2 separate regions of the Homo sapiens genome follow, and region 2 is linked to region 1. A link means that fine-mapping ties the variant in region 1 to the expression of a gene that starts in the linked region. Tissue or cell type: putamen. Region 1 holds a variant in brackets; the other region holds the start of a gene. All regions are shown on one strand. Distances are between the middles of the regions.

Region 1 (8,103 bases):
ACTTCCTTTCGGAGCACTGGGTCCCGCTGGTCACCTCCCTTCTCCACTTCCTTTCGGAGCACTGGGCCCGCCGGTCACCTCCCTTCTCCACTTCCTTTCGGAGCACTGGGCCTGCCGGTCACCTCCCTTCTCCACTTCCGAAATCCACTTCCTTTCGGAGCACTGGGCCCGCCGGTCACCTCCCTTCTCCACTTCCTTTCGGAGCACTGGGCCCCGCCGGTCACCTCCCTTCTCCACTTCCTTTCGGAGCACTGGGCCTGCCGGTCACCTCCCTTCTCCACTTCCTTTCGGAGCACTGGGCCTGCCGGTCACCTCCCTTCTCCACTTCCTTTCGGAGCACTGGGCCCCGCCGGTCACCTCCCTTCTCCACTTCCTTTCGGAGCACTGGGCCCCGCCGGTCACCTCCCTTCTCCACTTCCTTTCGGAGCACTGGGCCTGCCGGTCACCTCCCTTCTCCACTTCCTTTCGGAGCACTGGGCCTGCCGGTCACCTCCCTTCTCCACTTCCTTTCGGAGCACTGGGCCTGCCGGTCACCTCCCTTCTCCACTTCCTTTCGGAGCACTGGGCCTGCCGGTCACCTCCCTTCTCCACTTCCTTGCCCCAAGATGCCTAAGGTGGGGGGTGGTCAGTAGGGTCCCCTGGGGGCAGGAGGTCCACCAGCAGCTGGGCACATGGCTGGCCAACCAAGGAGCTCACCTCACCCTGTGCCAGCCCTCCCTCTCCTGGACAGGCAGTCTGTGGTCCCACCCCTTCACCTGTTCCGCCCCACGTTCCCTCTCCTCAATGGCCTGCACTCACACTGCCCTTGCGGACGTAGTCGGGGTCTTTGTAGATGTCCCGGGCAAGGCCAAAGTCACAGATCTTCACCACGTCGCTTTCCGACAGCAGAATGTTCCGAGCAGCCAGGTCTCTGTGGATGCACTGGGGTGCGGGGAGGCGGCAGGGGGGCTGTCAGTGCAGGCCCCTGGGGTAATACCCACACCCGAAACTCCAGGGTGCCCAAGCAGTGGGGACCATGGGGATGCCCTGCCTGAACTGTGCTCCTTTGGGGAAGGATTCCCATCCATCTCCAGGACTCATCATGGAGAGAGCTTGTGGAATTGTGGGGACAGCAGAGAAAGTTGTGGAGTCAAACAGACTCTGCTGCTGACCAGCCAAGAGACCTTGGGAGGTCAACTCCATGCTTTGGGCAGAGTTTCCTCCTCTGCAAAGTGGGAGAGACACTGATGGACCACAGAGCCATTGCAGGGTGAGGCCAGTACCAAGCACTTCTTGGCGACTGGTGGGGATGCACCCTTTTCCCGTCTGAAGGGCCTTCGGGGGAAGCTCACCTTTCGGGAAGCCAGGAACTCCATCCCTCTGGCCACCTGGAAGCTGTAGCAGACAAGATCTTCCATGGTCAGCGGGCTCAGCCACAGGTCCTCAGCTACACAGTGGAGCCAGGTGGGCTCAGGAGGCGCCTCCTCCGCGGCCTCCATCTACCCAGCCCCAGGGAACAGCTAACAAGCATGTCAGCCCCTCTCCTGCCCCTCAGACTCTGGGACACCCACATCCTACTCCAGAGCACCCTCTCCTGCCCCTCAGCCTCTGGGACACCCACATCCTACTCCAGAGCACCCTCTCCTGCCCCTCAGCCTCTGGGACACCCACGTCCTACTCCAGAGCACCCTCTCCTGCCCCTCAGCCTCTGGGACACACACGTCCTACTCCAGAGCACCCTCTCCTGCCCCTCAGACTCTGGGACACCCACGTCCTACTCCAGAGCACCCTCTCCTGCCCCTCAGACTCTGGGACACCCACGTCCTACTCCAGAGCACCCTCTCCTGCCCCTCAGCCTCTGGGACACCCACATCCTACTCCAGAGCACCCTCTCCTGCCCCTCAGCCTCTGGGACACCCACGTCCTACTCCAGAGCACCCTCTCCTGCCCCTCAGCCTCTGGGACACCCACGTCCTACTCCAGAGCACCCTCTCCTGCCCCTCAGCCTCTGGGACACCCACGTCCTACTCCAGAGCACCCTCTCCTGCCCCTCAGCCTCTGGGACACCCACGTCCTATTCCAGAGCACCCTCTCCTGCCCCTCAGCCTCTGGGACACCCACGTCCTACTCCAGAGCACCCTCTCCTGCCCCTCAGCCTCTGGGACACCCACGTCCTACTCCAGAGCACCCTCTCCTGCCCCTCAGCCTCTGGTACACCCACGTCCTATTCCAGAGCACCCTCTCCTGCCCCTCAGCCTCTGGGACACCCACGTCCTACTCCCAGAGCACCCTCTCCTGCCCCTCAACCTCTGGGACACCCACGTCCTATTCCAGAGCACCCTCTCCTGCCACTCAGCCTCTGGGACACCCACGTCCTACTCCCAGAGCACCCTCTCCTGCCCCTCAGCCTCTGGGACACCCACATCCTATTCCAGAGTACCCTCTCCTGCCACTCAGCCTCTGGGACACCCACATCCTACTCCAGAGCACCCTCTCCTGCCCCTCAGCCTCTGGGACACCCACGTCCTACTCCCAGAGCACCCTCTCCTGCCCCTCAGCCTCTGGGACACCCACATCCTATTCCAGAGCACCCTCTCCTGCCCCTCAGCCTCTGGGACACCCACATCCTATTCCAGAGCACCCTCTCCTGCCCCTCAGCCTCTGGGACACCCACGTCCTACTCCCAGAGCACCCTCTCCTGCCCCTCAGCCTCTGGGACACCCACGTCCTACTCCAGAGCACCCTCTCCTGCCCCTCAGCCTCTGGGACACCCACGTCCTACTCCCAGAGCACCCTCTCCTGCCCCTCAGCCTCTGGGACACCCACATCCTACTCCAGAGCACCCTCTCCTGCTCCTCAGCCTCTGGGACACCCACGTCCTACTCCAGAGGACCCTCTCCTGCCCCTCAGCCTCTGGGACACCCACGTCCTACTCCCAGAGCAGTAAATACTGTTGCTCTGTGGGGGCCGGGCACCTGCTGCTTGGCCCTCCACTGCCTGCCTTGTCTGCAGGGCAATTTCCTATTCAGCCTCTGATGACCCAGTCAATCGTAAAACATCTGTGTGAAAATTGTCCCCGAGGTGTCTTCCCTTCCTAAGGCAGAGCCCATTCCACACTCTCCCATGAAAGCCCCCGCTGAGGACCCCAGGCT[G/GGGTTACCCTA]GGGTGCCTGATCACGGGATATAACCGGGCCCGTCAGGCACTAGGAAAAGGGAAGAGGCCAGGCTCTCACCTTCTTGGTCTGGAGAAGCCCGCCTCGCTCCGCCCTCGGTCTTCGAGAACCGCGCGAAGAGGACCCTGTCGCTGCTCCCCGGCCGCCTCCGATCCAGCCTGGCGAGCTCCACCATGGCGCGGAAGCGTCCGCGCTGCTCGGGAGACTTCTCCTGCGGATGCACGAAGCTGGCTCGAGGGCGCCCAGTCGTCCGCCGCAGAGGCGCCTCCATTCCCCCGCCGCCCGCGGCGCCCCGCAGGCCGCCCGCTCACCGCGCAGGGGCTGAAGGCGTCCCGCTTGGCGCGCAGGAAGTTGGAGAGGTTGCCGTACTTGCAGAACTCCACGATCACCATGAGGGGGCCTGCGGCGGGACCGGGCGGCGGCCGTGCGTTCGGAACCCGGGGCGCGCTGCGGGCGCGCTCCGCGTTTGCACCCGCGCCCCCTCCCGCCCGCGGCGCCCCGCGCCCGGGGTCTCGCCGTCCCAGCGGGCCGCCCGCTCCGTACCCTGCGGCTTGGTGCACGCCCCGAGGAGGTTGACCACGTTGAGGTGGTTGCCGATGTGAATGAGGATCTTGAGCTCCGACATCAGCGCGCGGTGCTCGCTGGCCGTGGCGCCCTCTGGAGGGGACACGGGCCTCACACCGGCCCCGACCCTGGCAGGTCCCCGTTCCCCGCCACCCGGCGCTTTTGGGAGGGGGAGGGTTACTAAGGGCCCCCAGGACATCCTGCCGGCCCCACTGAGGCAGAGGGGGTTCGGGTGGTCCCTCGGCTCTGAAGCCCGCAGCCTCCCTGTAGAATCTCGGATGAGACTGGCTTCCAGCCTCAGTCTCCCTTCCCGAGTTGCCGTCCCACCGGCCCACCCCGAGCTGCTGCTCCTCACCAGCTAGGCTGCCCCTTCCGCCCGCTGACCCCACACCTTTCAGCATTTTCACGGCCACGGTGTCACAGCTGCTGCCCTTGTGGATGCCGAAAGCGGAGGCTTCCACCACCTTCCCGAAGGCGCCGTAGCCGAGCACTCTCCCTGTCGGGGCAGGGGGCCAGTTGCAGGTGAGCTGTACGGGGTGAGCGTGGAGACAGGTGGGCGGCGGGGGAGCCCCGTGCAGAGGTCCAGGAGGACAGGCCTGGCAGCAGGAGGAGCGTGGGGAGCCACAGCGGGAAGACAAGGAGAGGTGGACAGGAGGCCGCGCATCCTCCCGGGTAGGTGTGACAGATACACCCTGCTCAGGGTGGCAGCAGGTGACCTCAGGGAGCCTGGGAACTGGGGACCCTGGCTGAGGTTCTAGGTACCCACGCCCACAGGGACAGGTCAGGCCAGGCGGAACTTCCTGGTGCAAGTTTTGAAAATGGAGGGATTCAGGCACTCCGGCCTGCAGCAGGTGGGTCGGGCAGGAGGTGTGGGTTGGGCAGGCTGGTGCTGGCCTCACCCAGGTGCAGCCGCTCTCGGGGGAATTCCCACTGGCTGGCATCGTAGGACAGGTATTCGCATTGCTCCTCCAGAGGCACCTCCCCGGGGTCCATGATGATGGACAGGTAGCCCGTCTTGATGTCTGCGTGGGCCGGCTGCGGGGAGGGGACAGGGAGGAGTGGGGCAGCTCACTGATTTGGCCATACCACTGTGGCTTGGGCAGAACTTTGCCCAGGACAGATGGCACTTCCTGCGGGGTTCTCAGTCAAGGAGGGGACAGAAAAAAAGACAGACAACCTCTGCGGGGTTGGAGCCCAGCGTGAAGGGCAGGGAGGCTTCCCAGGAAACAAGGCTGCCAGGTGAACTAGGGCGGGCACCTTATTCTTTATCTTAGGGGCGGCCAGGGTGGGGAAGGCCTGAGAGAGACTCCATCAGGAGCGGGGAGGGACACTCACCCTCCTCATGTTACAGAAGATGAGGAGGAGGAGGACCCAGAAGAAGACAGCGATGACGCCGGTACCGACAAGGATCACGATCTCCATGCTGCCCTTATCCTCGGAGCCTGCGTGGGCAGAAAGGGGCCGGCGTGTGTGTGTGTGTGTGTAAGAGCGTGCACCTGCAGGCAGCACCCCTTCTGGTGGCCACGACTTGCCCAAGGTGGCCACAAGAAAGCGTTAACTGGGGACGGGAAGGGAGTTGAGGGGTGCAGCCTGAGGCCAGACCTTCCACGGCCACGCTGGCGGAGGAGTTGACGCAGCCCTTGGCGTTGCACACGCTGCACAGATAGCGTCCCGCATCCTCCTCGCGCACGCGCTGGATGCTCAGCTTCTGGTTGGAGTCCGCCAAGTCGACTCCTGCAGGGGGTGGGGTGGAGGTGCGGGTCCACCTGGGTTTGGGATCGTCGGCCTCGCGGGCCTCCGGACCTGCCCTTCGCCAGGGCCACCCTCCCTACCAGACTTTTCCTCCAGCAGCCTCTCGTCTTTGTACCACACGATGCTGGGCGCGTGCGCTCCGGCCACCAAGCACTGCATCTCCAGCGAGTCGCTCACGTTCACCAGGAGGTCGGTCAAGTTCTGCGTGAGCCGAGGGGCTTCCAGGGCTGGGGGCAGGGGTCGAGAGGGAGCTAAGTGGAGCTGCACTTAGCAGGAGGACCCTCTTTGGGCTGGGAGCAGAGGTAGAAAAGGATCCCTGGAAGCTGGACTTAGGGGTTGTGCGCCGGGCAGGAGCGCGGCGCGCCTCCGCAGGGGGCGGCGGATAGTCAGGAGGGGTAGCTCCTGCAGGCCAGGGCTGTGAATAGACCTCCCAGGGGCGAGCCACGCCGGGGCAAAGGCAGAGGCAGCTACTGCTAGAAGAGAGCGCGTCCCCGCCCTCCCCGCGGCCAGCCTCACCCTGCACCGACAGGTACTTCTTGTGGCAGTGCTTGTCATGGCTGCGCCGGTCTTGCACTTCGCACACATAGTGGCCCTCGTGCTCGGGCGCGACGCGGGGGATACTCAGGCTGAGCGTGGCGTGGCGCGCCCCAGGTGCCACCTCCTCCAGGCTGGCGGCCAGAGGGGTGGCGAACAGATGCACGTTCTTGCAGTCGAGCAGAAGCGGGTTCCCGTGCGCATCGTGCAGCGTGGACAGGTTGAGGCGGTACCAGCGCAGATGCTCGTACTTGTAGCTGTCGGCTTGGCAGCTCAGGAGCACCGGCTGGCCCTCTAGTAGCTCCTCGGATGGCTTGGATTCGATGGTGAAGCCGTCGGGGATGGCTGTGGAGGGAGGAAGAAGCCCTGTGGCACTGCCCTGGGAGTTTGCTCCCCCATCCACCTGCCGCCCCGGGGTCTCCTCCTGCCTCCCTCCCTCCCTCTCTCCTGGAGGGGCCCCAGCTGGACTGCTTGCCCCCCGCCCCACCAAAAGCCCAGGTCATCAGGAGTTCCTTGTCACCCTCAGTGGGACTTGAGTCCTCATTCTCTCTTGAAGCTTGCCATGCCCCACCCCATGCTCAGCCTGAAATAACGTGTTCCCTGGCTTTTCCCAGTGCCGTGCGCCCACTTCCTCTTGTCTCTCTGGTCACTTCTGGTCAGGCTCCTGTGGCCCCCCAGCCCCCGGGTGTTCTTTTGGGCTCCATCTCTCTGCTGGTGCCCTGATCTACATCTCTCTGCTGGTGCCCTGATCTACATTCTGGGACCCAGTGACGTCTGCTCCTGGGCTCCGCTCTCCTGAGGTCACTACCACATTTGAAAATCTGAGTAAACCACAGAGCTTCTCCCCAGAGCAAAATTCACACGAGTCACAAGGTCTCAGGGCTTGGGAAGGGGAGGGTGGGAGTGGGTATAGCTAGGAGGAGCTGCAGTGAGCCAAGGGCATCCTTGAGGGAGGAGCCCCAGGGTTGGGGACAGAGGATGCCATTCCATCCCAGTGCGCCAGCACCCAGGCCCTATGCTGGTGACCCTTAAATCTATTTTTCCTGTCTACAACCGGTAGGCCTTGGATCTCTCTCCTGGGTGTCCCAAAGACCCCAGAAACTCAATGAGCCCAAACCTGCCCCCTCCTGACCCTGTACCCAGGCCTCCCCGCCCTGGTCTGGTCACTCACTGGTCACATAGAAGTAGATGAGCCGCTCATCCTGGCCCACCTTGTTGGAGACCACACACTTGTACATGGCAGACACGTTGGCATTCTGGATCACCAGCTTGCTCACAGTCTGGGAGAGCACAGGCACAAGGATCCATTTCCTGCCCAAGTTCTCCCAACCTGGGCCCTGTCTTTCTGCAAGGAGGTCGCTGTGCACCACCCCCCCCAATCATGGGGGAAACTGAGGCTTTGGGCTGGAGAAGACCAAAACTCACAGGACCAGGGATAGTGAGGCAGAGGAGAGAAGGCCCCTGGGCAGCAGAGAGAGGTAGCTGCCCAGAAAAGTCAAGGGACAGTGTATGGACTGCTGGCCTAGGCTGCAGTGACGTCAGAGGGCAGCCTTTGGCAGGACCAGAGAGACCTCTGGCCGTGGCTATGTTGAGGGGGCACCAGCGTCAGTGCAAGCCAGGGTGAGAATTCAGCCTGGGTCACAGCAAAAGCCAGTCACTTCTGGATGGGGTCAGGCCCAATCCAGTCGCTGCTTGCTGAGATCCTCGTGAGATGGCCTCCTCAGCCCAGAACTGTCCTCAGCAGCAATCCCGAGGCCCAGGGTTATTGAGAGGGGTGGGGATGGCTCCCAGAAGGACTGAGGCCTCAGGGAGTAGGAAGCCTGAGACACAGGGGAGGAGAGAGGGCCACAGGCCCTGCCTACCATCCAAAGACCCCCACCCCCACCCCACCCCCAGCTGGGCACTTCCTGTCCAGGACTGGAACAGGAAGAGGCTCTGGAGGTGTGTAGGAAAACAGGAAGTGACTGGAGGAAGTAGGTGCCTTTGTTCAGTACCCCCTTCTCGGCGTTGCCCCCAGGCTGCGCCAGCGGCTCAGCAGCCCTCTGTGCAGACCTGGTCAGCCTCCAGCCCTGTCCCCTCCTGGTCCTGGGGCCTGTGGGCCTCAGGGGCTCA
Region 2 (8,103 bases), 31 kb after region 1:
GGGGCTTCATGGGGTTCTTTGCTCTGCTTGGAATTCCCTGTCCTGGAGTTCTGCAGACCCCACCAGGAAGCCCTTAGCTGGAAGTGACACTGCCTTCCTGTGCAGCTTACAGCCACCAGCTGGGCCTCACCAGGGCCCCTGAACACTTTCATCCCTGGGCAATACACGTCTGATGGCATGTCTGTGTCCCTGCAAGGCACAGGAAACCCCTGTGCGATGGGGCCAGGTCCAAGTCCTCCCTGGGCCACCCCGAACAGGCACTATGCTGGGGTCTTGCATAGAACTGCAGGCTCCTTCCCTGGGTCGGGGTGCCACTGCTGGGGGTTACAGTGAAGAATTCGCCAGACAGACCACACATCACACCTCGTACCCTGTCTGGGCCCAGCCATGTGGGCCCTATGCTCTGGGAGGGCTCAGGACTCCTTCAGCCACACTGGCTCTGTGCCATAGGCCTGGTGGATGAGGGAACAGCACCTGCATTCGAGTCCTCAGAGCCCTGAGCTGGAGCAGAAGGTCCCCAGGCCCAAGTAAAGTGGGCCTGATCCCCACATCCTGCCTGCAGTGACTTGCATCCCTGGGCCACACATCTGTCCACATCTGGGCCTTTGTGACCCAGGTCACAGCAAGGGCAAACGTCCTGAGACCAGGCCACTCCAGATGCCCAGCAGACCCTGCTCCTGCATGTCCCTGAGCTGGTAGCCACAGTGCAGAGGTGCCAATGGCCTCTCTCTAGACTAAGCCCCAAGAGACATCTGTGACCTACCCTCTCCACTGGGGCAAGACTGTGGAACTGCAGCAGGCATCTGGGTCTTGGAGTCCAGCCCAAGCACACACAACCCACACAACCTCGGGGCTTGCCAGCTTGTGCCATGGCTATGCTTGTGCCATGGCTATGCTTGTGCCATGGCTATGCTTGGGGAAACTGAGGTGCAGGGAGGGGAAAGGAGGGGGCCCAGGTCACACAGAAAGGACTTTACGGCAGAGGCAGGACAAGAGTCTGGTTCTATGATCAATAGCACACTTTTAAGGGGTCAGCTTCAGGATGCTCAGGCTTCTGGCCTGCTCCCACCGGACCAGCTGCCCTGACACCCGACTGCAGCTCCCACCGGACCAGCTGCCCTGACACCCGACTGCAGCTGAGGGCTTGTGCTTCCGCCATGGCATCCCCCATCAAGCTGGGGGCTCCCGGGGTCTTCAGCCTAGCAGGGGGTACAGCAAGGTGCAGGGCTCACGGAGGGATGACCTCTGTCTTCATTGCCATCTCCCCACCAGCCAAACCCAGGTCCAGCCCAGGACACCCCTCTCCATGGGGCGCCCAACTAATGCCCTCTCTCCTCTTCATAACTGGGTCACTAAGAGTCACTACTTACTGCAGGGAATAGCTTCCTCACCCTTCACCCCACGTCCCTCTGTGCTCCACCCGGGAGCACCAGGACACTGGCCTCTCCTGGTTCTCCTTATACCTGCAGAATGTTCCCTGGATCCCTGGAAGCCCCCTTGCCCTCTGGGCCCCTCCTCCAGGGTTCCCCTCCCGGGTCTCTCTCTTCCTCTCCAGCTACTCAGCCCAGCTCAGACACTGCGCCCAGGTGCCTGTCCCATGTCTCCTCCAGGATAAGCGTCTCCCATTCTACAGCCCTGCAGTCCAACCAAGGTCTACCAGCCACTCGACAAATACATCCTGAGCACCTGTGGGAGCCTGGTCCTGGGCTGGGTCCAGGAGGGCCAAGGGCAGCGCCCTGATCTGGCCTGCCCGACTCGGAGGCCCAGATAGATGTTCTCCTCCCTCCTCCCCTGGTTGAGCCAGACCTGCCCCCTCTCCTGTCCTCTGCCCTTCAGCCAGTGGACATACAGGTGGTGAGCAAAGGCAGGCTTTGTCAGGCTTACTTTGGGCCTCCTGGGGACCTTGGGGAAGTGACACATGTCCTTGGTCTAAGCTTCTCCATGTGTAAAATGGGTCTGACACTCCCTGTGAGAATTACAAGCATGTAAAGCCAGTATTTAATTCCTATGGCGTGCAGAAATGTTGAGGTCCCCGTCGCTGACTTCAGGGCTTCAGACACTGGAACCCCTGACCCCGCCCTTACACCCTTTGATTTCCAGGGACACCAGCTCCGTGGGGACTCCCAGCTCATCTTCTCAGCTTCCTCCCTGACATCTCCATCCACTCCCTCTGCCGCCCGCTCATCCCCCACAGTCCCTCTTTCCAACCCCTCCGCCTCCGCTTCAGGTCTGCGTCTCTCCCCGCCAGAGCCACATCCCAACACAAACCGAACCCCGCCTCTCCTGTGCAGGGGACCCTCCCGCGGGGGCCTCTGCTCCTCAGCTGGCCTTCGAGGCCCCTGTCCCCTCAAATCCGGGGACCCCTGGCCTTCCGCCCCTTCTGCGGCGCTGACAGCCCGCGATTCGCCTCCTCAAGATTCGTCTCAAGTGCCAGCGTGCACCTGCACCCGTCCGCCTCGGGCGCGCGGTGGTCCCCGGCCCCTGTCCCCGCCGTCGCCGGCCACGGGGAGGGGGAAGCCCGCCTCGAGCGCCCTCTGGGGGACCGACCGCGAGCGGAGGCGCTGGGCGTCGGGAAGTGCGCACCCAAGTCCGGGGCCCGGCCGGGATGGATCTCCGGCGCGCGTGGGTCGGGACGGCGCGGCGCGGGGACCCCGCGGGGAAGCGAGTAAGGGCGCGAAGGATCCGGGCTCAGCGCGCAGCCCGGCAGGGCCCGGCTCCGAGGACGCGGAGCCACCGACGGAGACGCGGATTCAGGGGCCGGGAGAGCTACCCCTGCGCCGAGGCGCGGCCCGGCCGCCCTGGCCCTGACCCGGCTGCGGTCCCCGCCCGCCCCTTCCTCATCCCGAGGTCCCGCGCCCCAAGCGCCGTGCTCCCCTCAGGCGTCCGCGCACCAGGGCCACCGTGTCCCCCGCCCGTACCCGGCGGAGCGGTCTCAGCGCCCGCCCCAGGTGCGCGGTACCCCCTCCCCGGCCAGCCCCACGCTCGGGCGGGTGGCCCGTTCGCCGCGCTCACCGTCCAGGAGTCCCAGGCAGAGCCACAGTCGCAGGCACAGCGCGGCGCCCCGCTGCATCTCCGGCCGCTGCGCGTGGGTCCGACCCGAGCGGCCGCGGCTCGGGGCTGAAAGTGTCCGCGCGGGCGCCGGCTGGCCTGGGGCGGGGCGGGGCGGGGCGGGGGCCGGAGGCGGGCCCGGGATTCAGGCCGCTCCCCGCGCCCCCCTCCCCCCGTCCCTCCCAGCCCGCCGCGGGGCGTCCGGTGCACCCGAGCAGTGCGCGCTCCGCACCACAGGGTCCGGGCCCCCTCCTGGGCGGCTCCGGGCGCGGGGACGCGGGTAACGCAGACGGTCTCGCGATGCGCTCCGGAGGTGATGGAGCCTGGTGGGCAAAGGGGAGCAAAATGCGGCACGCGCTCTTTTCCGTCCTTTCTTTCCATCGGTAAAATCTAGACTAAACAAGAAAGCAATCCTTGTAAAAATAGTATGTTACATCTTTGAAAATAGTGGCACCAGCCGGCGTAACATAGGGAGACCCAGTCTCAAAAATAAACAAGCAAATAAATAAAATAATACGCCGAGCTTGGTTGTGCGCGCCTGTAATCCCAGCTTCTCGGGGGGGCTGAGGCAGGAGAATCGCTTGAACCCGGGAGAAGGAGGTTGCAGTGAGCCGAGATCGCGCCACTGCACTCCAGTCTGGGAGCCAAAAAAAAAAAAAAAAAAGCAAAAACAAAACCCGTTCAGCAGTGTTTACCTGCACAGTGTCGACGGACAGTGTCGACGGAAGCCGCACCCGTGAGCGGGACACCCGGGATGACCGACCCCCTCCCTGCAGGCCTGGCCTCCTAGCTTTAGAACTCCCCCAGATGTTTTGTTCTCAGCTCAATCAGGACCCGCCCCCACCTTTTTAATAAAGCGACACTTTGCTTTTGCTTTCTGACTTGGCAACCCTCTTACAGACTTCCGTTCTCTTTTCAGTTTGTCTCTAGAATTTTCCTGTTTAATAATGAAGCCCATGACCATGACTGTCTCAACCTCCTTCCCTGCTTTTCGTTTCATTCACATTTTCCATCCCCCCACCCCCGCCCCCCAAAGCCCTTTCATCCTCGCCAAAAAGCAAGAGTAGATTTTCAATAACCACTACCAGCTCTCTCCAATCCAGGTAAGAAGTGGCTATATTATTAAGCTGGAATCACAAATCAGTGCGGATAGTGTAGATAATTTAACAAATAAGGTTGGGGAAACTAGGTAACCAAGCGATACATGAAGTTAGGTATTTATCAATCATATATTGATTTTTTTTAGCTTTGAAAGATTATGAGATGTAACACACTTATGGAAAGTACATAATATATCAGCATATTATAAACCTGAATTTTAAAGCAACAAATACCTGTGTTTCCATTCTCCAGGCCAAGGGATGTAGAATGACATCCCCACATCCCCTCACTTCCCATCACAAACCCCTCACCAACCCCAGAAGATGCCCACTACCCTGGCATTATCATTTCCCTGCTTTTGTTTATCATTTTATCATCAAAATATATGTTTTGCTTTTTTTTTCAGAATGTACTTTTTTTTTTTTTTCTCAAAGTCTCTCTTTTGTTGCCCAGGCTGGAGTGCAGTGGGACGATCTCACTGCACTGCAATGCAACCTCTGCCTCCTGGGGTCAAGCAATTCTCCCGCCTCAGCCTCCTGAGTAGCTGTGATTCCAGGCACCCGGCACCATGCCCGGCTAATTTTTGTATTTTTAGTAGAGATGGGGGTTTAACCATGTTGACCAGGCTGGTCTCAAACTCCTGACTTCCTGATCTGCCAACCTCAGCCTCCCAAAGTGCTGGGATTATAGGCATGAGCCACTGTGCCCCGCCCAGAATATACTTGTTTTTTTTTTGTTGTTGTTGTTGTTTTAGACAGGGTCTCACTTTGTCACCCAGGCTGGAGTGCAGTGACATGATATCTGCTCACCGCAGCCTCAGCACCCCCCGGGCTCAAATGATCCTCCCACCTCAGCCTCCCAAGTAGCTGGGACCACAGATGTGCGCCACCACACCCAGTGACTTTTTTGCATAGCTGGGTTTTCGCCACGTTGCCCAAGCTGGTCTTGAACTCCTGGGCTCAAGTGATCCACCTGCCTCAGCCTCCCAGAATGCTGGGATGACAGGGATGAGCCGCCGCATCCAGCCAGAATGTGCTTTTAAAATTTTAAAGTATACTTAGAGGACATAAGTGCAGATTTCTTAATTCATATATTGTGTACAGGTGAAGTCTGGGCTTTTAGTGTACGCGTCACCTGTACAGTGGACACTCTACCCAAAAGGTGATTTTTCAGTCCTTACCTCTTGCCCTCCCTCCCTGCTTTTGGAGTCTCCAGTGTCTATTACTCCTCTCTGTGTGTTTGTGTCCCTACAGTTTAGCTCACATTTTGCTTGTTGTTTTTTTTTTCCACTTTATCTCAGTGCCTTCATACCATTTATATTCTTTTGCTCAACACCATTAGTGAGATTCATCTATATTGCTGTGATGATCTATACTTTGCTCATTTTCGTAACTGCATAGTTTTCCACAGTAGGATACACCACAATTTGTCCATCTACTATTAATGGAAGTTTGAGTGGTTACCAGTTTCCAACTTTTGCCACAACACTCTTGTATGTGTTTCCTGGTGTACACATGCTGTCTTCAACTTTGGTAGCCAGTGCCAAGTATTTTTTCAAGTGATTTGTACCATTTTGCATGATCATGGCAGCGTAAGCAGTTACCGCTGCCGCACACCTTTACCCACAGTATTGTCAGTTTTGGTTTTTAAAATGTGGCCATTCTAGTTGGTTTGCATTGGCATCTCATTGCGGTTTCATTAGCTATTTTTTTTTTTTTTTTTTTTTTTTGAGACAGAGCCTTGCTCTGTTCCCAGGCTGGAGTGCAATGGCGCGATCCTGGCTCGCTGCAACTTCCACCTCCCAGGTTCAAGCAATTCTCCTGCCTCAGCCCCTGGAGAAGCTGGGATTACAGGCATACGCCACCATGCCCAGCTAATTTTTGTATTTTTAGTGGAGACGGGATTTCACCATGTTAGCCATGCTGGCCTCAAACTCCTGACCTCGGGTAATCCACCCGCCTCAGTCACCCGAAGTGCTGGGATTAACGGAGGTGAGCCACCATGCCTGATCTATTAGCTTTTCCTTAATTACCATTGCGGTTGAGCACATTTTTATAATTGGCCATTTAGATTTCAAGTCTTTTGCTCTTTACGACTCCCCATCTGTCTTTTTCTTATTGATTTGTAGTTCTTTATATATTCTGCATATGAGTCTTTTATCAGTTCCTTTATTATTGCTGTATAATGAAGTACTCCAAGATGTTGTGGGGCAAAGCAGCAGCTATTTCGTTTTGCTCATGCTTTTGAGAGTCAGGAATTTGACAAGGGCTTACTTAGCTGGGTTGGATGCCTGGTGGTCGGTGCTGGCTGTTGTCCAGAAGCTCAGCTGGGGCTGCCAACCAGTGCGCCCATTCGGTGTCTTTCCAGCATGACAATCCCACATTAGTTGAAGTTCTTGTGTAGCAGGTGGCTTCCCCAGAGTGACTATCCAAGAGAACTAGGTGGAAACTAGATAGTCTCGAAGAAGTCACAGCCTGCCTAGGGGACATGTTCCCCACAATTATTAGAGAGAGGCAAGGTCACATGCAGAAGAGCATGTGGGATGGCAGACACTGCCAAGGCCATCTGTGGAAAAGGAACTTGGGTACATTGTGCTACACATCTCCTCTCATTCGGGGTCTGAATTTTCACTTCCGTAATGCTCTCTTTTTGGGAGGCAGGATGAAGACAGAAGATTTTCATTTTAACACAGCACGCTTACAAATTGGTTTCCTTATGGCTGGTGTTACTTGTGTTATCTCATTATTTTATTACTATTATTTTTTGTTTGCGATGGAGCCGTGCTCTGTTGCCCAGGCTGGAGTGCAGTGGCAAGATCTCGGTTCACTGCAACCTCCGCCTCCCGGGTTCAAGCGATTCTCCTGCCTCAGCCTCCCGAGTAGCTGGGACTACATGCGTGTGCCACCATGCCTGGCTAAATTTTGTATTTTTAGTAGAGATGGGGTTTCGTCATGTTGGCCAGGCTGGTCATGAACTCTTGACCTCAGGTGATCCGCCCACCTCGGCCTCCCAAAGTGCTGGGATTACAGGCGTGAGCCACTGCGCCCGGCCTTGTGTTCTTTTAAAGAAACCTTTATCTTGATGTCATGAAGATATTTACTATTTTTTATCACTTATAAATTTTAATGTTTTATTTTCTCTTTCATATTTAGACCTGCGGGCCCTGGAATTGCCTTCTCTGTGTAGCGTAAAGTAGGTGCATGTGTCGAGTTTCTGTCTTTCACCCCGTAAAGATATCTTGCTACTGGCCGGGCGCTGTGGCTCACGCCTGTAATCCCAGCACTCTGGGAGGCCGAGGTGGGCAGATCACGAGGTCAGGAGATCGAGACCATCCTAGCGAACATGGTGAAACCCCGTCTCTACCAAAAAATACAAAAAAGTTAGCTAGGTGTGGTGGCGGAGGCCTGTAGTCCCAGCTACTCGGGAGGCTGAGGCAGGAGGATGGCGTGAACCTGGGAGGCGGAGCTTGCAGTGAGCAGAGATTGCACCACTGCACTCCAGCCTGGGTCACGGAGTGAGAGTCCGTCTCAAAAAAAAAAAAAAAAAAGGTATCTTGCTATCTCATGACCATGATGAGAAGGTCATGCTTTCTACACTTTTCTCTAGCTCCCCCTCAGTCATACATTAACGATCTACACGGAATGGTTCATTTTCTCAGCTTTGTCTATTTTTGTACTGATACTGTCACCAAAACATCACAGGTTCCGTCTAGGTCCGGCCGCCCACCATACAGAAAGCCAATGACAGAGGAGACAAGTATTGTCAAGGAGGAACGTTTTAATCAGGTGCTGTGGCTGACAAATCCATCTCCCTGACCAACTAAAACCAGGGCTTTACATAGCAAGGAAGAAATGAAACAATGTGTAACAAAACAAAAACTAAGGAGGGGCAAGGAAGCAGTCATGATGAATGAACGGTCCAGCATCATTGTCTGGATGTGGAGATCTGGCGATT

Direction of the effects. Alleles are on the strand shown, and positions count from the first base shown. SD is a standard deviation of normalised expression in the study named.
As copies of G replace GGGTTACCCTA in region 1, the expression in putamen of the gene that starts at base 3,125 in region 2 goes down (large effect, 0.89 SD a copy in GTEx).

What was found. PIP is the estimated chance that this variant, and not a neighbour inherited with it, causes the effect.
Region 2: FLT4 starts here. The variant in region 1 is fine-mapped to the expression of FLT4 in putamen (GTEx, PIP above 0.99).

Annotation. Positions count from the first base shown.
Region 1 is chr5:180,615,569-180,623,671 of GRCh38, forward strand. It overlaps FLT4 (fms related receptor tyrosine kinase 4), which reads right to left. Exons shown (of 30, transcript NM_182925.5): 12 at 7,163-7,271; 13 at 5,974-6,336; 14 at 5,538-5,684; 15 at 5,308-5,439; 16 at 5,041-5,147; 17 at 4,605-4,740; 18 at 4,097-4,201; 19 at 3,685-3,798; 20 at 3,453-3,541; 21 at 3,202-3,352; 22 at 1,332-1,426; 23 at 799-921. Among named protein-coding and RNA genes, the nearest start is that of SCGB3A1, 28 kb to the left of the region's middle. RefSeq lists an enhancer at 4,263-5,462. The variant G/GGGTTACCCTA (reference allele first, on the strand shown) is at 3,132.
Region 2 is chr5:180,646,476-180,654,578 of GRCh38, forward strand. FLT4 (fms related receptor tyrosine kinase 4) reads right to left here and starts at 3,125. Exons shown (of 30, transcript NM_182925.5): 1 at 3,013-3,125. The coding sequence starts at 3,070.